Homo sapiens: one gene and its partners. The protein of the gene in region 1 interacts with the protein of each later gene in a pairwise test. Each region holds a gene or a part of one and is shown on either strand. Other genes may lie near its edges.

Region 1 (8,201 bases):
AGCAAATGCAGTCAGACAGAACCGCAGACTTGACAGTCATTGATGCATGTCATGTGGGGAAACTGAGTCAGAGTGGGGCAGGGCATTGCCCTAGTCCCTCAGTTCAGCTGGGTCAGAGCTATTTCAGGTCTCTGGTCCTCATAGCAATCTGGAGCCCTGATCCCTGGCCCCTGGGTTTCCCTATCATCTCTCTGGCTTCAACCCATCACAGCACCAAGCACAGCCATCCTTGCAGGAGCTGGGCACACCTTTTGTATTTATTTCTATATTTTTGTAAAGACGGGGTATTGCTATGTTGCCCAGACTGGTCTCCAACTCCTGGCCTCAAGCCACCCTCCCACCTCAGCCTCTCAAAGTGTTGGGATTACAGGTGTGAGCCACTGTGCCGCTGGAGCTGGAATTGAATCCTTGTCTGTTGGACTCCAGTGTTAGCCACTGTGCGGCTCTGCCCCTGAAGAGCATGGAGCCAGGCTGTGTTGGGTTTGTGTCTGTGTCCCTTCCTATCACTGGTGCGCCCTCAGTCTCAGCTGTGACTTTGGCACACAGCAGGTGCTCAATAAATGTTTTTTTTCTTTTCTTTTCTTTTTTTTTTTTTTTTGAGACACAGTCTCACTCTGTCGCCCAGGCTGGAGTGCAACGGTACAATCTTGCCTCACTGTAACCTCCGCCTCCCGGGTTCAAGTGATTTTCCTGCCTCAGCCTCCCGAGTAGCCAGGATTACAGGTGTGTGCTACCACACCCAGCTAATTTTTGTATTTTTAATAGAGACGGGGTTTCACTGCATTAGCCAGGCTGGTCTCGAACTCCTGACCTCAAGTGATCCACCTGCCTCCGCCTCCCAAAGTGCTGGGATTACATGCATGAGCCATCGCGCCCGGCAATAAATGCTTGTTGAGTAAATAACTAAAATCACGTGTAAAGGGAAGAATGCGCAAGGAAGGAGAGAGAAGCTTTGCACACTCAGGAAACCCCCTGACCTGGCAGGGCTGGTGGGCCAGTTGCCCCAGGAACCAGGGGCCCCGGGTGAGTGCCCACACCCTGCCCTACACACCCTGGTGTCTGGGCCCTGCGTGCTCCATCTTTCCCCAGAGGGCGGTCCCCTTGCGGGGTCCTCCACTGCAACCTTCTTGGAATTCCTCCAGCCCCCAAGGCACGCTGCTGCCCTGGGCCTTTAGCCCTCGACACCCTGGGCCCGGAGCCTCTGCCCAAGTCAGCCTTGCCCACCGCGTGCACATCCTTGTCCAGAGCATTTAGAGTCCGCACTCTAGTTCAGTGGTTTATTGATTGCTTCCCCATGACGCTGGGCGGCCCAGCGGGGCAGGGACCTTGACTGTCTTGGTTACCGCGGCGTCAGGCGGGGGAGGCGCTCACAGCTGGCCTAACAGGTGAAGGACGGCGCAGGTGGGCGGAGGCCTGTCCGCCAAGGACCGCCGGGTCCGCCTGTGCGCTGGGAAGGCCCGCCCCCTAGCGGCCGATCTTTAGAGTACGGAGGGCAGCCCCCAAAGGCCTCCCATCCCTGTCCCCGCCCCTGGGCCCCTGGACTCACTTTGATCTCGATCTGCTCCTCCATCTCCTTGCTCTTCATGGCTGCGTACTCCTTCTCCAGCCTGCAGATCGGGAGGGCCCCGTGGTTACTGTCATGCCCTCGGGGGTCCCCCCTTCTTACCAGTACCCTGGTTGCCCAGCAGGCACCGACCTCTTCATCTTCTTGGGGTTGTACTTGACCTGGTAGGCTTTGAGGACCAGCTTGTCCGGGCAGCTGTCGAACTGGTGGGGGATCACTCTCTGGAAGTACTGTGGGGACACAGCCGGTCACCTGGTCACCAACATGCAGGCCCTGACCACCGGGGGCCGCCCGAGCCCTGTTGCCCTGGAGGGGGGCAGGAACGGGTCTGCCCGGGGTGTCGCCATGTCCTCAACGCCGTGTCCTCAGTGTTTGTGGAGCAATGGAAAGACTGAGCGTGAGGGGAGGGAATGGGGGACTGCCTGCAGCCAAAGCCTTAGTTTCCAGAAGAAAAGCTGGCAGATGCTGGATGTGGTGGCTCATTCATATAATCCCAATGATTTAAAAGCCTGAGGTGGGAGAAATAAATAGCTTGAGCCCAGGAGTTTGAGACCAGTGTGGGCAACATAGTGAGACCCCATTTCTGAAAAAAAAAAATTAGCTGGACATGGTGATGTACACCTCTGGTTCCAGCTACTCAGGAGGCTGAGGCGGGAGGATCGCTTCAGCCCAGGAGGTGGAGGCTGCAGTGAGCTAGGACTGCACCACTGTACTCCAGCCTGGGCCACAGAGCAACTCCGACTTAAAAAAAAAAAGAAAAAGGTAAAAGAAAAAAAGAAAAGCAGGCCAAGGAGGCTCTCCTGGGAGTGAAGGCTGAGGGTCGGGGGGTCTGACAGAGGGGACCTTCGTGGGGGAAGGAGGATGGGTATGCCGGGGGCCTCGGGCCTGTGCAAAGGGTTAAGGTAAGCCCAGGGGGGACACAGCTCCTGCACCCGGCCCAGCTGGCCCCCTCTGGTAGCTGTGGACAATGCCTGCCCATGTTCACGGACACAACCGTGGCCTTTGTGCATTCTTCCCTGAAGCACCAGCTGGAGGACGCGGGGAGGGGGCAGGGGCCCGCACAGCAGAGAAGTAGCGGTGGGAGGCAGGCTGGCCAGCAGCAGGGCCTCCAGGCAGGCCGGGCTGGGGCGGGGCAAGGCGTGAGGTTGCCTAGACCCCCAAACTCCCTCCTGTGCCCTCACCAGGCTGGGCGGCAGGGTGGGGATGCCCTCATGGTCAGTCAGTCATGATCTGCCATCAGGCTTTGGGGCATCTGCGGGGTTGGGGGCAGGAGGTGGGCAGTGGGGCTCCCAGGGCTCAGCCTGGGCCTCCTGTCTCCCTGCGGCCAGGCTGCTGGCCCCTGACTGTGTCTGGCAGAGCCTAGGGGGTCCTCTGGTCCCTTAGGGAGACCTCAGGGGAACAGAGTGGATGGGAACAGATCAGGGATGTCAGGCACACCACCTTCCACCCTCGAAGCCGGGCCCTCTCTGTCACTTGTGAGGGCATCCTGTGACTCGAAGCCCCTGATTGGGGGCAGCCCCACCGGCCCTGGCCCTCCCGGCCCACCTGGGACATCCCCTCCATGTCCAGCTGCATCAGCTCTGCCTGGTTCACCTGCAGCAGGGCGAGGCCCACTCGGAACACGATCTCCAGCCCCTGCAAAGGCGGCAAAGGCAGTGGGAGGTGGAGGGCAGGGAGGCTCCTGTTCCAACCACCCCCAAGGGGCTCTCTTCCCTCCCCAGGCACCATCGGTCCTCACCTCATACATGAAGATGTCAAAGACCCGGGTGGCGACGGGGAGTGGGAAGGTGGTCAGGAACAGTGTGAGGAACCAGGACGAGGCATACATGGATGTGTGGAAGCTTTGGGAACGGAAGTGGGTGTTGAGGTCTGGGAGCTGCTCCTGCAGGGGTGGGAGGCCGGGTGGGCACAGTGAGGGGGACGCCCTCCCACCGGGGGGTGCTGGGCCTCAGTGTCCCCGCCTCCAGGGAGCCTTCCTGGACCTGCGCTGGGCAGCCTGAGGCTCCCTTCCTGGTGCTCCCTCAGCACTCTGTCTGAGGGAGGCCGAAGCACCCCCGAGCTTTGAGTAGCACGGGGTGGGGGACAGGCAGGGATGGCAAGATCTGTAGCCGCCTGTGTTGGGGGCCCACCCTGGGTAGGTGATGCGCCCGTGGCAGCTCATGGGGTCCTCACGACAGCCTGAGAGGGTGTGTCTGAGGCTGGGGGAGTTGGGTCACTCCCCACAGACACCCTGAGACCCAGAGGTGGAGCATGGGCAAGTGGCAGCCTCTGGCCCTGGGGGGAGCCCCCCCCCCACCTTGTTACGTGACCTGCCAGCCACTGTACCTCCCTTGGACCCCAGCATAAAGCTTTGTGCAAGCTGTGTTGGATTGGCCTGAACTCTAGACAGCCAGAAAGTGGCAGACGGCTGGGGAAACTGAGGCCGGAGAAGGCGTTAGGATCCCGGGCTTCCTCCCAGCGCCAGGGGCTCTCTGCGCCCTGAGTTTGCAAGCTTGGCTGTGGGAGGGCTCTGCTACCCAGCCTGAGGTGGGGTGGTGCCTTCTCTGCAGCCCAGGCCTCCTGCTTGTGGCACTACCAGGCCCCCTAAGGCTACAGCACCGTCCATGATCCAGGCCCAGGGAGTGGGGCTGTCACATCCAGGGATGACTGCACAGCCCCACCTGCCATGGCAGCTGAGGCGGGCCGGTGTGTGTGTGTGTGTCTGCGTGTGTGTGTATGCATGCGGGTGTGTGTATGTTCGCAAACGGCCTTGGCGGCTCTGCCTGCCAGCCGGGAGCAGGCCCTGCGGGGGCTGCTATTTATAAACAGACGTCTGCGGCTCTCCAGTAATCAGGCAGGCAGACAACACTCCCTCCTTCCACCACACTCTGGAGCAGACAGGGAGGTGGCTGTGGCTGTGTCCGATGTGAGCCTGCCCCACCCCTCTGCCTCAGCAGCCCTGGGAGCCCCCCTTCAGTGGTGGCTCTCCTGTTCCTCCAAGCATCCTTCAGGGCAGTGCTGCATGGAAAGAGGAGTGCCTTTTGGAGTTGGAACGTCCAGGTGTGATTTCACAGGCTTGGAATTTTCAGTCCAAGAGGTGCCCGGGTATGGTCTAGGGTGCCAGCCCTGCCCTTCTGCGATCCTGCTCCCTTGCGGCCCTGCCCACCTGTGGCCCTGCCCTCCTGCAGCCCTGCTCTCCTGCGGCCCTGCTCACCTGCAGCATGTACTCGAACTGATAGATGCAGAGCCCGAGCTCGGCCATGCTGGGTTTGAAGAGCTCCCGCAGCCGGTACTCCTGCATCAGCCGCACGAACACACAGAAGGCCTCCTCCTCAGGCATCTAGGGGGGACGGGCAGGTGGGGGGGCTCAGGGCAGCGCAGCGGGGAGGGGCATCTCGCTGCTCATCAGGGCCCTGGGGTACAGGGGCCCATGTCCATGTCGGTACCTGGCTCCCTAGACTCTCATGACACACTGTTGGTCCCTGTGTCCTCACAAGCTGTTTTACTGATGGAAGACCTGAGGCTGAGGTCACCTGCCAAGGGCCACTCGGCAGGAAACAGGGGAGCTGGACCTGAACCCAGGGCTGGCCACTGCCAGCATCCCCCTGGTTAGGATACCTCCTGTCCCAGCTGCGTCCTCTCTCCCTGTCAGCCTCCCGATTTCTCTGGAGGAGACCCCCAAGCCCCATAAACACCACGCTGGATGGCTTAAGTCCCCAGCCTGAGGTTCCTGTCCAACCCTGAGATGTGGCAGAGAGAGACAGCCTATCCCTCCAAACCCGGTCTCTGTCCTGGATGGTACAGCAGACAGGACCCAACCAGACAGGTGCCACTCACTGGGCCTTGGCCTGGCGATTGGCAGAGGTCACGGGTGTGGATGGAGAAGGAGGATCTACCCCTAGCAAGACGCTGGGTGGAGGACACGCCACTTCTGTCCATCTCTTGGGGGCCGAGCCCAGGGTGGGCTGTTGTCTGGCAGGAGCCCAGCCACCCCCCAGCCACCTACCTGCATGAGGAGCAGGCCCACGATGAAGGCGCTTCCCTGGCAGTAGCCCACCTCCCGGTCTACCAGCGAGTATGCCTAGAAGGGAACAAGTCCTGAGAGCAGGGTCCCGCCGTCCAGCACAGCCGGTGAACTGGGGAACTTCTCCTTCCTTTGGGACCGAGGGAGCGGGGAGCCCTGGGCCTCACCTTCATGACGTTGAAGAGGACCTCCTGGCCCAGGCTGTCCTGGCCCTTGAAGAACTCATGTTCCGGGTAGGTGCGGGCGATGTCCCTGCGGATCAGCTTCTCGCACGGCGAGGACATCTTGAGCAGCTCGGAGTACTGGTTCTTGACGGGCATGTCCGTGGCGCTGCACAGAAGCTGCCACACGATGGCCCGGAAGTGGTGGGGGATGCCCTTGCGGATCAGCTCCTGGCCACGGGAGCGGGAAGCGGGGGCTGGACTCGGTCCCAGCGCAGCCTCCCCGTGGCCACCCAGCCCAGCTCCTCAGGCGTGGCTCATCCAGGCCTCAAGCATGGCACAGAACTCATGGTCCCCAATCCTTTTTTTACCCCCTTTTTTCAGAGACAGGGTCTCCCTCTGTCACCCAGGCTGGAGTGCAGTGGTGCGATCATAGCTCCCTGCAGCCTTGAACTCCTGGGCTCAAGCGATCCTCCTGCCTCAGCTTCCTGAGTAGCTGGGACTACAGTTGTGCACCACCACGCCTGGCTAATTTTTAAACTTTTTTTTTTTTTGAGATGGAGTCTCACTCTGTTGCCCACGCCGGAGTGCAGTGGCGTGATCTTGGCTCACTGCTACCTCTTGCCTCCCAGGTTCAAGTGATTCTCCTGCCTCAGCCTCCCAAGTAGCTGGGATTACAGGTGCACGCCACCACGCCCAGCTAATTTTTGTATTTTTAGTAGAGTCGGAGTTTCGCCATGTTGGCCAGGCTGGTCTTGAACTCCTGACCTTAGGTGATCTGCCTGCCTCGACCTTCCAACGAACTGGGATTACAGGCGTGAGCCACTGCGCCCGGCCTACCTGGCTAATTTTTAAACTTTTTATAGAGTCGGAGTCTCATTACGTTGCCCAGGCTGGCCTCGAACTCCTGGCCTCAAGCGATCCTCCCACCTTGGCCGCCCAAAGTGCTGAGATTCCAGGCGTGAGCCACCACACCCCCATCCTTCATGGGCACTACAGGGCAGCAAGCACATGGGCACTCGAGGGTGCAGGGCCTGTCCAGCACCACCCTGACTCACTCTCTCCTGTCCCTGTGCTCTGGCAGGACACCCTGAAAGTGCCTGCACATCTCCACTGCTGCCGCTGTGCCCAGGCTGGGGCCCCGCAGACCCTGGCGCTGCCTGGTGGCTGAGTGACCGCACCACCTGCCCACGCCGTCGGCCCAGCCCTGCCTGCCTGGCCGCCCCCCACCTTGAGCAGCTTCTCCTTCCTGCGCCGCCACTCCTCCCACTCGTTGGCGATCCGGCCCCACAGGATCCACGTGTCCTCCTCCAGGTGGCTCAGGTTGGAGGAGGCCGAGGAGCTGGACACTAGCGAGGAGCCACTGTTCCGCCGCGAGCCATTCATGGAGCGCATGGACTTGGAGTCGGCCTCCAGGAGCCTGGGCAGGAAGGGCCGACAGAGGGGAACCAGTGACTCCCTGGGGACAGGGATCCTTGGCGAGCCCAGCCCATCCTCCCCCTCCTGGGGGTCTTAGAGGACACCAGGGATTAGGTCCCTCTTGTTCTTTTTTTTTTCTTCTTCTTTGAGATGGAGTCTTGCTCTGTCGCCCAGGCTGGAGTGCAGTGGTGTGATCTCAGCTCACTGCAACCTCTGCCTCCTGGTTCAAGCAATTCTCCTGCTTCAGCCTCCTGAGTAGCTGGGATTACAGGTGCATGCCACCACACCTGGCTAACTTTATATTTGTAGTAAATATGGGGTTTCACCATGTTGGTCGGGCTGGTCTCGAACTCCTGACCTCAGGTGATCCACCTGCCTCAGCCTCCTAAACTGCTGGGATTACAGGCTTGAGCCACTGCCCTCAGCGCCCCCTTTTTTTTGAGACGGAGTTTTGCTCTTGTTGCCCAGACTGGAGTGCAGTGGCGTGATCTTGGCTCACTGCAGCGTCCGCCTCCCGGGTTCAAGTGATTCTCCTGCCTCAGGCTCCCAAGTAGCTGAGATTACAGGCACCCACCACCATGCCCAGCTAATTTTTGTGTTTTTAGTAGAGACAGGATTTCACCATGTTGGCCAGGCTGGTCTCAAACACCTGACCTCAAGTGATCCGTCTGCCTCGGCCTCCCAAAGTGTTCGGTGGTGTGAGCCACCACGTCCAGCCTAAAACCTGCATTTTAAATGGGGGTAGGGTCAGAGGAAGAAAGCAGGAAGGCCCGAATCGACTCTTCCTCCAGTCCTGGCTCCATTAACCGCGGCGGATTCACAGATTCACTTGACCTCTCAAACCTTCAGTCTCATCTGAACAGGGTGGGGACACATATATTCAGCCAGGGTTGGGAGGATGAAAGGAGGTGTCTGTCCCTCATCCAGCATCTGGAGGTGGCTGTCACATTGCACACACTGGGCCTGGCTCTGAATGTGAGGGCACCTGGGAACTCCTGTGGGGGCCCAGACTGCACCCCAAGATTTCACCCCATCCCCCAGCCCCCAACTCACC
Region 2 (8,201 bases), on another chromosome or scaffold:
TTGCCCATTGAATTGTCTAGCCATCTTGTTAAAAGTCAACTGACCATATATGTAAGAGTTTATTTTTAGACTCTCAATACTATTCAATCAATCTTTATGACTATCCTTATGTCAGTATCACAGTGTTTTGATTATTGTGGCTTTGCGGTTAAGTTTTAAAACCAGAAAGTATAAATCTTACAACTGTGTACTTCCTTTTCAAGATTATTTTGGCTACTCTGGGTCCCTTGCCTTTCTATATTAGTTTTAGGGTCAATTTGTCAATTTCTACGGGGGGGAATTTTTAAAAAAGCAATTGGGATTTTGATAGGGATTGCACTAAATCTGTAGATCACTTTGGGTAGTAATGCCATCTTAATATTGTCTTCCAATTCACAAATAATGGCTATCTAATTATTTAGATCTTTAATTTCTTTCAACAATATTTTGTGGTTTTCTGTGTTCAAGTCTTACACTCTTTTGGTTAAATTTACTCCTAAGTATTTTTTGCCTTTTGATATTATTACAAATGGAAATTTATTCTCAATGTAATTTTTAGGTTATTGCTAGTGTACAGAAATAAAGCTGATTTTTATATGTTGATCTCATTTCTTGTAACCTTGCTGAACTTGTTTATTAGTTCTAAGAGTTTTCTGGGTATATGTTTGTGGGTTCTTAAGGATTTTCTATATAAAATATTCTACCATTTATAAATAGTTGTTTCACTCTGGATGGCTTTTTTTCTTTCTTTCTTTTTTTTTTTTTTTTTAGCTCTGGCTGGAACTCAGCATAATGTTGAACAGAAGTGGCCAGAGTAGATATTCTTGCCATGCTCTTGATCTTAGGGGACAGGTACAATAATAGCTGTGGTATTTTTATAGATGTCACTTACAGGATTAAGGAAGTTCTTTGCTATTCCTAGTTTGTTGACTTTTTTTTGAGACAGAGTCTTGCTCTGTCGCCCAGGCTGGAGCACAATGGCACGATCTTGGCTTACTGCAACCTCCACCTCCTGGGCTCAAGCGATTCTCCTGCCTCAGCCTCCCGAGTAGCTGGGGTTACAGGTGTTTGCCATCACACCTGGCTGATTTTTGTATTTTTAGTAGAGACGAGGTTTCACCATGTTGGCCAGGCTGGTCTCGAACTCCTGACCTCAGGTGATCCACTTGCCTCGGCCTCCCAAAGTGCTGGGATTTACGGGTGTGAGCCACTGCGTTTGGCTGACTGTTTTAATCATAAAAGAATGTTGGATTTTGTCAAATGTTTTTTCTGTGTGAACTGAGATAACTGTATGGTTTTGTCGTCTATTAATATGGTGTATTACATTGACAGGTTCTGACCCTTGCATTCCTGGGTAAGTTCCTCTTGATCATGTTATATAATCCTTTAATACACCAGAGAAACAAGATTTCCTCTTTCTTTCTTTTTGAGACGGAGTTGCACTCTGCTGCCCAGGATGGAGTGCAGTGGTGCAATCTTGGCTCACTGCAACCTCCTCCGCCTCCTGGGTTCAAGTGATTCTCCTGCCTTGGCCTCCTGAGTAGCTGAGACTACAGGTGCCCACCATCATGCCCGGCTAATTTTTTGTGTTTTTCATAGAGACAGGGTTTCACCATGTCGACCAGACTGGTTTCAAACTCCTGACCTCAGGTGATCCGCCTGCCTCAGCCTCCCAAAGTGCTGGGATTACAGGCATGAGCCACTGCGCCTGGCCAAGATTTTCTTTTTAAATAACTTCTTTTCTTTTTCAGAGACAGAGTCTCACTCTGTCACCCAGGCTGAAGCACAGTGGTATGATAATAGCTCACTGCAGCCTTGAATTCTTGGGCTCAAGCAATCTTTCTGCCTCAGCCTCCCAAGTAACTGGGACCACAGGTGTACACCACCACACCCACAATTTTCCTTTTTGATACCTGGGTTGTATGTTTCTCAGTTTATCTTGGGAAACAAACCATCCAGTCTACCATGTCAGATGTTTAAGTCTGCGGTATAATAAAAACATATATTAGGTCTTTGTTCCCAGTTCCTGTCACTGACCTCCCAATTTCCTGAGTGACAGGGTTGTCTTTTGTTATTCATAACAAGATTCTTTTGACTATAATGAGTTTATGCTAATGAGGTGACTGATGACAAGGCTCCTATCTAGCTTCAGAATGGGGGCTGGTCTCCAGAGGAACCAACCAAGTGATAAGAGGATTGGAAATTTCAGTCCCACTTCCTGACCTCCTAGGAGGGGAAGGGAGACAGACATTACACTCAATCACCAGAAGTCAATGATTTAATCAATTATGCCTAAGTGATGGAACTTCAATTCAAAAATCTGAAAAACTGAGGGTAAGGAATATTCCAATTCGGTGAACACATCAAGGTGCTGGGAGAGGTGGCGTATCCAGAGAGGGGATGGAAGCTCTGGAGCCCTGCCGCTACTCCCCACATATGCCTCTCTTCCATTTGGCTGTTCCTGAATTGTATACTTTATAATGAAACTGTAATCCCAAGTATAGCATTTTCCTAAGTTCTATGACTCACCCTAGCAAATGATCACATGGAGTGGCATTGTTGGCATCCCCAAAATCTATAGCCAGCTTGGACAGAAGGCAGAAATGTGGGTAAGCCTGGGGACCCAGGACTTGCAAATGGCATCTCAAGTGAGGGCAATTTTGTAGGAATGAGTCCTTAAACTTGTGGAGTCTGATACTAATTCAGGGTAGTCAGTGTCAGAATAGCATTGAATAGCAGGACACCAGTTCATGTGGTAGAATCAGAGAATTGGTGGTTGTTGGAAACACACTGCAGAATCTCTAAACTGCTCTTACTACAGACTACTTACCTGAACAATAAAATAAAGAATAAGGAAATCAAAATAAAGCTTTTTTGTTTTAAGATTTGTATTTTTTTTTTTTTTTGAGATGGAGTTTCGCTCTTGTTGCCCAGGCTGGAGTACAATGGTGCGTGATCTCAGCTCACTGCAACCTCCACCCCCTGGGTTCAAGCGATTCTCCTGCCTCAGCCTCCCAAGTAGCTGGGATTACAGGCATGTGCCACCCCACCCAGCTAAGTTTGTATTTTTAGTAGAGACGGGGTTTCTCCATGTTGGTCAGGCTGGTCTCGAACTCCTGACCTCAGGTGATCCGCCCACCTCGGCCTCCCAGAGTGCTGGGATTACAGGCGTGAGCCACCGCGCCCAGCCAAGATCTGTGTATCTTTAAATAATTATTAAAAAATAATAAGCTTCTCCCAAAGATTTATTGTAGCAACAAAACAGTGGTAATGAGCCCTTAGGATTGCTACCATTAGGGGTATTATCTTGGGTCTAATATTGGTTTAAGACTTGGTCTTTGTGTATCTGGCCAAAATTTGCTTCAAAGAGTTACTGTTAACAAAACTCAAAGCCTAGAAGGTAGCAATAAGGCATGAAAAACAACTCTTAACAAGAAGCCACCTATGCTGTAGCAAAGAAACAGACATGCTTTGATACATAATTTTAACTTATAAAAAGTAACATCAGGCTGGGTGCAGTGGCTCATGCCTGCAATCCTAGCACTTCAGGAGGCCAAGGTGGGCAGATCACTTGAGGCCAGAAGTTCAAGACCAGCCTGGCCAACATGGCGAGACCCCATCTCTACTACAAATACAAAAATTAGCCGGGTGTGGTGGTGCACACCTGTAATTCCAGCTACTCAAGACACTAAGACACTAGAATCACTTGAACCCAGAAAGCAGAGATTGCAGTGAGCCAAGATTGTGCCACTGCACTCCAGCCTGGGTGATGAAGTGAGACTCTATCTCAAAAAAACCCAAAATACAGAAAAAAAAACAACATTTTCACATGCAATGGAACTATTTTCTTAGTTAGGTTTTTACTATATTAGTATTCCATATATTTCAAAATGCCTAGAAGCAATATTATATTTCTATAACATGAAAAATAAAGTTTTAAAAAATTACTACCGGACATTTCATTCATTCAATAAAAATTTATTAAGAAAAAATTCATTTCCAGAAAATCATTGTAAAATCACTGGTAGCTTCTATTTGGGGTCATCTTGTAAGATGGCTATACAGAGTTTTGGAGTAATTTACTAATTGTCTTGAATGGGGCTCTAGATAGACTGTCCAAAAACTTAAGAAAAAATTAGCAAATAACAACATTAACTTTTTTTTTTTTTTTTTTGGAGACGGAGTCTTGCTCTGTTGCCCAGGCTGGAGTGCAGTGGCGCAATCTTGGCTCATTGCAACCTCTACCTCCCAGGTTCAAGAGATTCTCCTGCCTTGGACTCTTGAGTAGCTGGGACGACAGGTGCACATCACCACACCCAGCTGATTTTTATAATTTTTAGTAGTGATGGGGTTTCACCATGTTGGCCAGGCTGGTCTTTAGCTCCTGACCTCAGGTGATCCTCCCACCTCAGCCTCCCAAAGTGCTGGGATTACAGGCATGAGCCACCATGCCCGGCCAACATTAACTTTTAGAAAATAGAAATACTTCAATAATAATGACTTCAACAGTACATTATATCCTGAAGATCAGTTGGAATATTTATTCTTCCTAACCAAGCACACAAATGTGTGTTCATGAAGGGTTTATACAAGTTCTAGGTCTTACCTCATCTATGTTTCTAAGCCATTTGCTGATGTTTTCAAAACTTTTACCATTGGTGATGTCATATACTAGCATGATACCCATTGCGCCTCTGTAGTAGGAGGTTGTGATGGTGTGAAATCGCTCCTGGCCTGCTGTATCCCTGAAATAAACAGCCAATAATTTCTATTAAGCATTTTGATATTACTACATTTCACATAAAGGACAAAACAAGAATAGTTTTTCCTAAGTATATATAAAAACTTTTTAGTTGAAGGAAATTAATAACCTACCCATACTGGATGAAAATCTGAAAGGGAAAACAGTAGGAAGTGACACATAAAACTCAAGTTTATTGAATAAGCACTAGCAAACACCATAGAAACTCTTAAAATTTCATTTTATTTAATAATTTAGTTCCATAATGTAACACAAAAGCAGGTAGGATTTTTAGAACATTAGAGAACTATACCATAGTACAGTCATATTTACATTTAGAATCATTAACCAAAAGTTGTAAAGATAACCTCACTTATAAATAATAAGACAGAAATGTAAATAGTAGTATTTTCCATTATTTAATGCTTAAAGCCAAAGGTGTAAGATGTATTTTGCTCCTGTAACTATGCCCTCTCATTTGTATCATCATTTTGCTCTTTTATGGATCATCTCATCAGCTTACAAACATGTTTTAGTATCTTTTTTAAAAAAGCAAAAATAAGGTCGGGCGCAGTGGCTCACACTTGTAATCCCAGCCCTTCGGGAGGCTGAGGCGTGTAGATCACTTAAGGTCAGGAGTTCAAGACACTTGGCCAACATGGTGAAACCCCATCTCTACTAAAAATACAAAAATTAGCCCGGCATGGTGGCACGTGCCTGTAATCCCACCTGCTCGGGAGGCTGAGGTAAGAGAACTGCTTGAACACAGGAGGCACAGGTTGCAGTGAGCCAAGATGGTGCCACTACACTCCAGCTTGGGTGACAGAGCGAGACTCCGTCTCAAAATAAATAAATAAATAAATAAATAAATAAATAAATAAATAAATAAATATAAAGCAAAAGACCCCAATCTCAACCCTGTATCTCTCCAACTATCCCTGCTCCTCTTTCGAGTTAATATTTTTAAAACTTTTATTTTGAAATAATTACAGCCTTACAGGAAGTTACAAAACTGTGCAGAGAGGTCCTGGGTACCTTTCACCCAGCTTTTCCTAATGATAACATCTTATATTACTGCAGCATAATAGCAAAACCAGAAAATGGACATTGGATACAATCTACAGACCTTATTAAGATTTCAGGGTTTTTTTTTTTTACATGCACTTATTTGTGTATGTGTGTATATATAGTTCTCTACAATTTATTACATGTACAGATTTGTGTAACTACCACAAGACAAAGAACTATTACATCACCTCTTTACTCCCCATAGTCCCTAAACTCTGATCAATAATCTGTTTTCTATGTTTATATTTTTTTCATTTCCAGAATGTTACGTAAGTGGAATCATGTAGTATGCTACCTTTTGAAATCGGCATTTAACACTTCTTTCACCATAATGCTCTTGAAGTCCTCTCAAGTTTTGCACATAATCCTGGTCTGTCCCATTTCATTGCTGGGTAGCATTCTATGGTATGTCTGTATCACAATTTGCTTAATTATTCACCCATGGAAGGACATTCAGGGTTGTTTCCAGTTTTTGGCTATAACAAAGTTCGAAGAATATTCATTTACAGGTTTCTATGTGGACATAATTTTTCATTTCTTTGAAATAAATGCCCAGGAATGTTATTTATGGGTAATATGGTAAGTGTATAACGGTAAGAAACTGGCCAACTTTTTCCAGAGTGGCTCTATCACTTGACATTTGCACTAGCAACATATAAAAGATCCAGTTTCTCTGCATCCTCACCAGCATTTGATGCTGTCACTTTTTTATTTCTGTAGTTCTAAGAGGGCACATAGTAATATTTCATCATCACATTAATCTGTATTTCCCTGTGGCTAAGATGGTGAACATTTTTTCATGTGTTTATTTGCCATCCACATGTCCTCTTTGGTGAAATGTCTGGTTTTTTTTTTTGCCCATTTTCTAATTGGATTGTTAGTTTTTTGTTTTTGGGGTTTTTTTTTTGAGATAGAGTTTCGATCTTGCCGCCCAGGCTGGAGTGCAATGGCACAGTCTCGGCTCACTGCAACCTCTGCCTCCTGGGTTCAAGTGATTCTCCTGCCTCAGCCTCCCAAGTAGCTGGGATCACAGGCGCCCACCACCACGCCCAGCCAACGGTTGTATTTTTAGTAGAAATGGGGTTTCACCATGTTGGCCAGGCTCGTCTCAAACTCCTGACCTCAGGTGATCAGCCCGCCTCAGCCTCCCAAAGTGCTGGGATTACAGGCGTGAGCCACCGTGGCTGGCCTGGATTGTCAGTTTTTTTGTCTTTTTACTGCTGACTTTTGAAAGTTCTTTTTATACAGAAGTCCTTTGTCAGATACACTGGCTTGTAAATATTTTCTCCAAGTCTGTAGCTAGTCTTTTCATTCCCTTGACAGGGTATTTTGTAGAGAGGAAGCTTTTAATTTTGTGAAAGTCTAATTAATTTACTGATTTTTTTTTCTTTTACAGATCATGTGTTTAGTGTTATGTCTAAGAATTCTTCACCTAGTCTTTTTTTTTTTTTTTTTTTTGAAACAGGGTGTCGCTCTGTTGCCCAGGCTGGAGTGTAGTGGCACGATCTTGGCTCACTGCAACCTCCGCCTCCCAGGTTCAAGAGATTCTCCTGCCTCAGCCTCTGGAATAGCTGAGATTACAGGCACGTGCCACCACATGCAGCTAATTTTTATATTTTTAGTAGAGATGGGTTTTCGCCATGTTGGCCAGGCTGGTCTTGAACTCCTGGCCTCAGATGATCTGCCCGCCTCAGCTTCCCAAAGTGCTGGGGTTACAGGCGTGAGCCACCACACCCAGCCTCTTCACGTAGTCTTATGTTCCAAAGATTTTCTCCTGTATTTTCTTCTAAAAGCCTTATGGGTCTTTTTTTCTTTTTTTGAGACAGAGTCTTGCTCTGTCGCCCAGGCTGGAGTGCAGTGGTGTGATCTCGGCACATTGCAACCTCTGCCTTTCGGGTTCAAGAGATTCTCCAACCTCAGCCTCCCAAAGAGCTGGGACTATAGGCGTGTGCCACCACACTGGACAATTTTTGTATTTCTAGTAGAGACGGGGTTTTGCCATGTTGGCCAGGCTGATCTCAAACTCCTGACCTCAGATGATCCACCCGCCTCAGCCTCCGAAAGTGCTGGGGTTATAGGCGTGAGCCACCGTGCCCGGCCACCTTATGGTTTTATTAAACCGATGGTACATTTTGAGTTAATTTCAAATAGGACATTTCTATGAATGTCCTATTGCTCAAGCACCATTTGCTTGAAATGTCGAAGTAATAACCTTGCTCCATTGAATTGCTTTTGTACCTTTGTCAAAAATCTGCAGGCCATACCACAGTTCAATCTGTGTCTGGGTTCTTTATTCTGTTGCAATCTCCTATGTGTCTAGGCCTCCTCCATTACCATACTGTCCTAGATTACTATGGTTAAATAAAAAGCTTTACAACCAGATAGATTGATTCTTCCCACTTATTTTACTTTG
Region 3 (8,201 bases), on another chromosome or scaffold:
CTATTGTGTCCGTCAGGAGAAGAGCAGGCCTAGCCCCTCGGGGTGACAATGAGAAGGCCCTGCCAACACCTAGGCCAGACCCCCAAGCCCCCAGTAGAGTCCCACCTGCTTCTTGGCTGCATCAGCCTCCCCCTGCAGCCTCTGGATAGTGCGGGTGAGCTCAGCAATCTCGTTCTTGGTGTCCCGCAGGTTGTCCCCATGCTTCCCAGCAGTCACCTGCAGCTCCTCATACTGGGGACCAAAGAAGTGGCAGTGCGCTTTCAAATGGCCCCAGCCCACCCTCACAGCTGGAGGCCCCATGCAAGTTGAGTATATCTGGCCCCCCGGACTCCAAGGGTCCCAGAGGCCCAAGCCTCTCACGATGGGAGATCTGATCCGACCCCAGGCCTCACACCTGAGCCAGCTATGCCTCTCACCTTGGTCTGGTACCAGGCCTCGGCCTCAGCCCGGCTCCTCTGGGCAATCAGCTCATACTGGGCCTTGACCTCGGCGATGATGCTGTCCAGGTCCAGGTTGCGGTTGTTGTCCATGGACAGCACCACATTGGTGTTAGACACGTGGGTCTGCACTTGGCTCAGCTCCTGAAGAATCAGAGACAGCTGCCACCAGCACCCCTGCTCCAGGCCCCAGGAAGCATCAGAGGGTGAAGGACATGGGCCCCCAGGTAGCATCAGGAGGCCTGTGCTCTTGTCCAGGCTCCAGCCTAGAGCAAAGTAAGGAAAACTGCAAGGAAAGGCCTCAGTCTCCCCAGCTATAAAATGAAGCTCCCATTTTTACAGACTTCATTTATTTTTATGGGTTTGCAGGCTTCCAAAAGATTAGAGAGGGTAAAGAGAATGTGTACTCTCTGCACTAACACTGGTGCCCGGCACTGTGCTAGCACATTCACTAACCCCTCTAGGCCTCAGAACACCCTGTGCAGCTGGCAGGCCCATGGCAGGCTCACAGGGTGCCTTTGTGCAAATTGGGGAAAGACACCCCTTCAGGTGGAAACAGCATGTCCAGCACCAGCCAAGTCACCAACTGCACCACCATCCACAGTAGTCCTGACCATGGACAAGTGAGGAAAGAGGTTTGGAGAGGAGAAGTGATGCATCCAAGGGCACCAGGTCCAGGGTGGGACCCAGCCTGGGACCAGTCAATTGCACCACAAAGCCCAAGTGGTTTCCTCTAGAGCACACTGAAAAGTATAGACTGTCTTGATGTTCTTGGGCCCTCCTGTTTCTAGAACCATCGTCCTTCACACATAAGTAGGCTTCAGGATGCTGTGAATGGCGGGTTAGGTGATGGGGAATCAAAGGTCTCTGTTCTGGCCTTGGGACCAGTGGGATCGCTGGGCCAGGACTGTGATGGCTCCCACGTGGGGCTCTGCCTCCATCTCTCCCATGGTCCTTCCTGCTCTGGGCTGCCCATAGAATGCCCTAAACTCCAGCTCTGACAAATCACTCATTCACTCAGTAGTCCTCAGAGGCTCCCTGATAGGTGGAGAACCTTCCCCCTAAAACCCAACACCTCCCATATCCTGGTCTTGTCTCCATCCTTTCTCAAACACTGGCCCTTCATGGCAGCCCAGGGAATTATAATAGAATAATAATAACAACCCTCGCATGCTGAGCATCACTGTGATTCAGGCTCTGTGTTAGGCATGTGGCAGGTACTAACTCATTACATGCCCTTTTCCAGTAGCACAAAGAGATTAAGTAACTTGGCCCAGATCACAAGCCAGTAAGTGAGGAGCTCAGTTTCAAACCCCAGGAGTCTGACATCAGAAGCTGAGAGGACGTAGACTAAAATAGAGATAGGCAGGAACAAAGAGAGACAGGGGGAAAAGAGAAATACCAAAGGCAAAACTGATATCCATACTGATGTAGATGTAGATTGTTAAATTAGATTGTCTTTCAAAAAGTGGGATGAGGAGTTTAGAGATGCAATCAATCTAGTCACTACAAAAACTTGTGGTTTTTGGGAAGATATGAGTTTTGGAGATAGACAAGCCTGAGATCAAGTCCCCAGCCTAACACGCACTGGCTGTGTAGCTGATGTAGCAGCTGAGCCTTGCGATGCCTCAGTTCCCTCTTCTGTAACACGGCCTGATCATACTTTCTTCCTGTGGTGGTTGTGGGGCTTAAGATCCATGTATGACCCATGGCATGTGCTGAGTAAAGTGCATTCTTACTTTCCCAGACTTCTCTGAAGGCCACTGGAGGTGCCCATAAGGTCTATTTGTCACAGATAAGATTGTGTTGTCACAGCTGCTTTGTCTCCTTCCCCACCGAGATGAACTGTCAGCATCATCTTGACGCATCCTGCCCCTGCCCTCCTTAGCTCAGGGTCTCTAGCCCCATGTCAGAGCATAGTCCTCAGGAAAATCAACCCGAAACTTTTAAGACAAGGAGGCAAAATCTCTCCACTGGATGGCATCAAGAGTGGATGAGGTGATGCAATGGTCTTGCTGGAACAAGGGGATAGAAAGGTCAGGCTTGGCCAGGTGCAGTGGCTCACACCTGTAATCCCAGCATTTTGGGAGTTCAAGGCTAGCCTGGGGAAAATGGTGAATGCTGTCGCTACAAAAAATACAAAAATTAGCCAGGCATGGTGACGTGCGCCTGTAATCCCAGCTACTTGGGAGGCTGAGGTGGGAGGATCGCTTGAGCCCAGGAGGTCGAGACTGTAGTGAGCTGTGATTGCGCCACTGCCCTCCAGCATGAGTGACAGAATGAGACCCTGTCTCAAAAAAAAAAAAAAAAAAAGTCAGGCTTTCCGATGAAAGGGAGCTCGTGAAATCAGAGCAGAAAGAGCTCTGTGAATCGCTAAGGTGTGTGTCTCCTTAGACACCAGGGACTCTAAGGGGGAAAGACAGTGGAGACTTCTAGGCAAGGGTAAAGGGAGCCAGCGGGCAGAAGTGGCACAAGCGGAAGAGGGACTGGGTTCCACAGATGCCCCAGGCCAGAGGGAGGCCACCATGGAGGCTGCCTTCCTGCCCTATGAGACACCCAGTGATAGGTGGTTCATCCCCCAGATTGCCGTGGGATCTGGCTTGGCCAAAACCAGATCATGGCATTGGTTACTGAGAGCCATGCTGGTTCCGTGACTGATCGAGCCCATGAGGCAGCAACAGAACAATTGTGCTGATCCTTGTTCTCACCCCACGGAGGCACTGCTGGGCCGTGAGGACCTCTGACAGGAAAGGGCCCAGGCTTGGTCCCTACCACTCTTTCCCTTGCCTCCTGCTCACCTAACTGTGCCCACACACTCGATGTGGGCACTCACCACCCACTGGTCCCCAAGCACCATGTTCCTTCATGCCTCCATGACACTGCACAGGCTGGGCCCCAGGCTGCCAAGTCCTTCCTGCTCCTCCTCTAGAAGTCTAGCCCTTCCATCAAGATCCAACTCAGAAGTCACCTCCCTCGAAGGCTTCCGCAGCCCTCCCAGGAAGGGTCAGCCATGGCGTCCCATGTGCCTTTGCACCTGTGCCTGTCCCCCACAGCTCTCATCACTTGATAACCTGGCCCCACAAGAGCTGAGACTTTGTCTTTGTTGCTATGTGGAAGGTGCTCAGTAAATGTTTGTTAAATAAACAAGGCATAGCAATGGAAAGGAATGCTGAGTATGCCAGCCATGTCCTTAGACCAAAGAAAAGCCAATTCCTAAACATTCAGAAAAGAGGGGGAGAGAGAATGGAACCTAATGGACCACAAGGAGGCCCCAGACCATGAATGACTATCAATGACCCTGGCAAAGTAGAAACTGGGGAAGCACCTAAAAACTCAGCATGGCAGCCCAGAAAACTTCCCAGTAAGTTCCATCCAGACAGGCCGTGCAGAGATGCTGGAAGGCAAGCAATCCAGCCAAGGATAAGCCCGGGAAACACCAAAGCCAGGGGTCAGAGGCTGCTAGATGAACTCTAGGCAGAAATAACACGGAGGTCCCTTTGGGCTGATCCCTACAGAAGATCCAGGAAAGGCCAATCGCTCAGCTGCTTTGTCATTTGCCTCTTTTCCATCAAGAACAAACTGGTCATCAAAGTGGAAAGCACAAGAAATATGCTTGAGAGGAAATGGGAACCCAAGACAGGGTAGATGAGAGACCTTGGCCTTGTTGGAGATCACAGGGATCCAGGCTAGAAAAGCATACACTCAGAGGCTCCAGGGACTGCCAAGGGAAGGAACGCCCTGGTCATCCTTGAGAGATATGGAGAGGAGGAGACCCCAAAACCCCAAACGCAGCAAATGGCCTGATTTTCAAATGGGAGAGATTTGGAATTTTTCAAATAAGGCTGACATCAACCTCCTCCAGACCCATAGAATGAATTCCTAAATGTGTGTGAGAGGCATGAAGCCATCATGGGTTCCCTAAGGAAAAGTGGAACCAAGTGGATTTCATTTTCCTTCATGATTATAATATTAAACTGCTAAAGGCCTGCCATAGACAATGTCTGACCAAGCCTTCCATAGCATTCTTGAAAGAAGACAGAAAAATGTGATCCTGGTAACAGTACTGTTAAGGGGATTTTAAAGTAGCTGAGGCTCTTTAACCACAAATTATTGGTTAACAGACTAACAGTCCCTTGGAAAATCACCACTGAAGACCCACAGGACTTTGTTTTAGGCCCTGATTGCCTTAACATGTGTATCAATGATTTACACTGAGATGCTATCAAATACCTAGACTGAAAGTTTATCCCACCTGCAGATAACACAAAGCTATGCATCACTAATACACTGGATAAAAGAATCAAGTTACTAAGAGCCCACATAGCTTAAAATGTTGGGATGACACCACAGTGGCATTTCATAGGAAAGAAAGGGAATGGTTAACTGTTCCACTCAATTGCAAAATTCAGCTACCCACATACAGGAAGTTGGAGGAGAGTAGATACATGTCTCATTTGAAAGCATTTATGTGAAAAAGTCCAGAAGGGGTTCTAAGAAAGCCAACGTTGTGAAACAACTTCTAAAACAACACATAAACTAGTGCACTATTAGGCTGCATCAATAGAAGTTTGTATCTGGAACCTCCCTCCCCACCCCTCCATCTTCTGAATACTTCACTAAAAGCCCTGTTTCCTGAACGTCCTCACATGCCACAGATTTTTATCCTGTCATCATCATGACTTCTAAAGGGCTATCATGTGAAAGGCATAAGTCACAAGAAGACAATTGGGCAAAGTCAAGGGCAGAAGTCATGAGAAGGAGATTCAAGTCAGTGCTCTAATGAAGTTGTTCAACAATGGTAATGCCTGCCCTAAAAAGTAGTGAGCTCACTGCCACAGGAAGTATTTGAGTAGAGGTTACATATGATAGGGTTATGTCAGGGATATCATAGAAATTGTTCTTGCACTGGATGGAAGGTTGGTCTTGAGGTCCCTGCGGACCCTAAGAGTCTGTGATTCTGCGGTCAATTCATGTTAAGTTCAACCCTCTCACTCTAGTCTCCAAAGCCCTCTTGTCTCCTGGAACCCCTCCTGGATTCTTTAATCTACCCACGCCTCACCTTCTACTCCAATCTGGAATCCCAGTCCCTCCTCTCTGCCCATTCCTGCTCCCTCATCCCTTGCTCCATTACAAACCGGGCAGGAAGAGGGCAATATAACAGTGGTAAGAGTCAGACTTCGGAGTTCAAGAGCCAGATTTGAATTCTAGCATGCTTCTTCCTAGCTATGTGACCACGAGCAACTCTGAGCCCCAGGGTCCTTGACTATAAAATTGAGACAATAATAGTTCTTGCATTCTGGGGTTATTGAGAAGATTATGTTAAAAGTTTGCCCCCGTGCCTGGCCCATCAAAAGCACTTAATAAGTTGAAGCTAGTATTAATTAAAGTGTCAAGGTTTTAGGCTGGGTGCGGTGGCTCACGCCTGTAATCCCAGCACTTTGGGAGGCCAAGGCGGGTGGATCACCTGAGGTCAGGAGTTCAAGACCAGCCTGGCCAACATGGCAAAACTCCATCTCTACTAAAAATACAAAAATTAGCTGGGCATGGTGGCAGGCACCTGTAGTCCCAGCTACTCCAGTGGCTAAAGCAGGAGAATCGCTTTGCAGAGGTTGCAGTGAGCCAAGACTGTGCCACTACACTCCAGCCTGGGTAACACAGCGAAACTCCGTCTCAAAAAAAAAAGTGTTAAGGTTTCATCTTCCACCAATGAGGTTGCACTGGTGAATTCAGGTCAGACCTCCATGGAAAACGCCCAGTGCTGTTTATAGTGTATGCAAACTCTCCCTGCCCATTGGCCACCTCACCATTTCATAGAGTTGCTGCAGGAAGTCAATCTCCTGGGTCAAGGTGCCCACTTTGCCATGCAGATCCATCCGGCCCATGTATGCTGCATCCACATCCTGGGGACGAGAGAGCAAGACAGATCCTCAGGCCCCAGGGATGTCCCCTCTCCCCGAATCAGCCCAGTACCCTGGCAGCCAAAGGACCACCTCCCCCACTCCACTCGGCTCACCTTCTTGAGCACCACAAACTCGTTCTCTGCAGCAGTGTGCTTGTTGATTTCATCCTCGTACCTGTTACACATGGGAGACTCAGGCCAGGCTCAGCCTGGCTCTGCCTTTCAGGCATGGGACCCACTCAGCCTTACAGAAGCCCTGATGGGTCCCTCACTGATCAAGAACACCTCTGGGGAGCAGTTCTTTAATGTAGCCAACCAGTGAAGAAACATGGGGTCTGCCTTGATTTAAACATTCTCTCTCCCCACCCCATTTTAGGGAAAGAGGCACAGAATTTGTGCAATAATATGGCAATCAAGAGCTGCCATCTCTTTGGATCCAAGCCCTTAGGAGGCTTTAGAGGGACAAGTGAAGATGTGTCAACAGTGGCTGACCTTTACCATCACTTTCAACAACACAGTGTCATTCAAACCAGCTAACTCCTCCCCAACCACTTTTGATGAGATTTTAAGGTTTAGAAATTGCCATGGTCAATTTATGGGAAAAGTCATTTTTAAATGTGCGTGTTTAAAAGTTATAAATACGCATATCAACCAATTATAATATATAAACCTTTGGAGCTTGAGTCAAATAAGCTGTATTTTTTAAATTTATGACATGTATGGGGTCACTGGAAATTCAAAACTGGCTGGATATTTAATGATATTGAGGAATTATTGTTTTAAAATTTTTTAGGTGTGATTATGCCACTGTATGTTTTACTGAGTCATAGATGAACTACATTCACATGCAGATATATGAATATAACTTGTAAAATATTAGTGAATGAAATGACAAGATGTCTGGGATTTGCTTCAAGACTACAAGGGAATCAGAACACGTAGAAAAAGGCAAAGGTAAAAAAAAAAGACTACACGGGAAGAAGGGAAGTGGGGAGGTGTAAAAAATGCAACAAGATTGGTTATGAGTTGATAATGATTAAAGCTGGGTGACAGGAACATGGGGTTCATTATACTATTCCCCCTACTTTAAAAACTTTTTTAAATTACAAACAAACCTGCCAATTCTCCAGGTGGCAGCAGGTGCTGGACCTGAGCACCTGAGGGAGCCAGCTCTGTCTGTGCATCCCCCAGGTGGGCCTGGGACCCTGGGAATGGGGTGGCCCTCTTGGCAGGTTTCCCACTGCCCCTCCTCACTCCCACATGGCCCCGCCTGGCCTGCTCTCCTCACTTGTTCTTGAAGTCCTCCACAAGGTCCTGCACGTTCCTGAGCTCTGAGTCCAGCCTCCCCCGCTCGCTCTGAAGTCTGTCCAGCGTGCTCCGCATGCTACCCAGGTAGGCCTCAAAGAGGGGCTCCAGGTTGTTCCTGGTGACACCCAAGTTCTGGCCCTGCTCCTGCAGCAGTGCCCACTTGGTCTCCAGCACCTTATTCTGTTGCTCCAGGAACCGCACCTGAGCCAGAGCAGAAAGGGTGGGCTGATGTCACCCTCCGGTCACCAGAGGAGCCAAGGATGGGGTCCATTGCCACCTCCCCTCCAAGGCCAGGGCAACATAGGGACGCTGCAGCCGCACCTACACTTTGCTGTGGGGAGGCACTCCTTAGGGGAATAGACTGCTGGAAACGACCGTCCAATCTGATGGAAAGAACTCTACCAAGTTAATAAGCACAAAAGCCCAGCTCAGTAGCAGTACCAATTTACTAGTTGGTAACCTTGGTCGAATCATTTCTCTCTGAGTCTCCCTCTCTCACTTGTCCTGCATAAACTGGACTAGATCTATGTTTCTGACCCCTAATTCTGCATTAAAAT

Evidence for each region.
Region 2: the proteins of EVI5L (region 1) and RAB10 interact in a two-hybrid assay, tested with the Homo sapiens proteins (one study listed by BioGRID).
Region 3: the proteins of EVI5L (region 1) and KRT79 interact in binary tests that used the Homo sapiens proteins (3 or more experiments, as listed by UniProt).

Annotation. Positions count from the first base shown.
Region 1 is NC_000019.10:7,846,679-7,854,879, reverse strand, and holds part of EVI5L (EVI5-like protein), read right to left. Parts: coding exon 8,201-8,201; intron 7,149-8,200; coding exon 6,959-7,148; intron 5,960-6,958; coding exon 5,735-5,959; intron 5,625-5,734; coding exon 5,550-5,624; intron 4,884-5,549; coding exon 4,758-4,883; intron 3,447-4,757; coding exon 3,303-3,446; intron 3,200-3,302; coding exon 3,110-3,199; intron 1,795-3,109; coding exon 1,697-1,794; intron 1,608-1,696; coding exon 1,547-1,607; intron 1-1,546. UniProt on the Homo sapiens protein: Functions as a GTPase-activating protein (GAP) with a broad specificity.
Region 2 is NC_000002.12:26,106,291-26,114,491, reverse strand, and holds part of RAB10 (ras-related protein Rab-10), read right to left. Parts: intron 4,725-8,201; coding exon 4,586-4,724; intron 1-4,585. UniProt on the Homo sapiens protein: The small GTPases Rab are key regulators of intracellular membrane trafficking, from the formation of transport vesicles to their fusion with membranes.
Region 3 is NC_000012.12:52,823,782-52,831,982, forward strand, and holds part of KRT79 (keratin, type II cytoskeletal 79), read right to left. Parts: intron 7,846-8,201; coding exon 7,625-7,845; intron 6,512-7,624; coding exon 6,451-6,511; intron 6,338-6,450; coding exon 6,242-6,337; intron 582-6,241; coding exon 417-581; intron 232-416; coding exon 106-231; intron 1-105.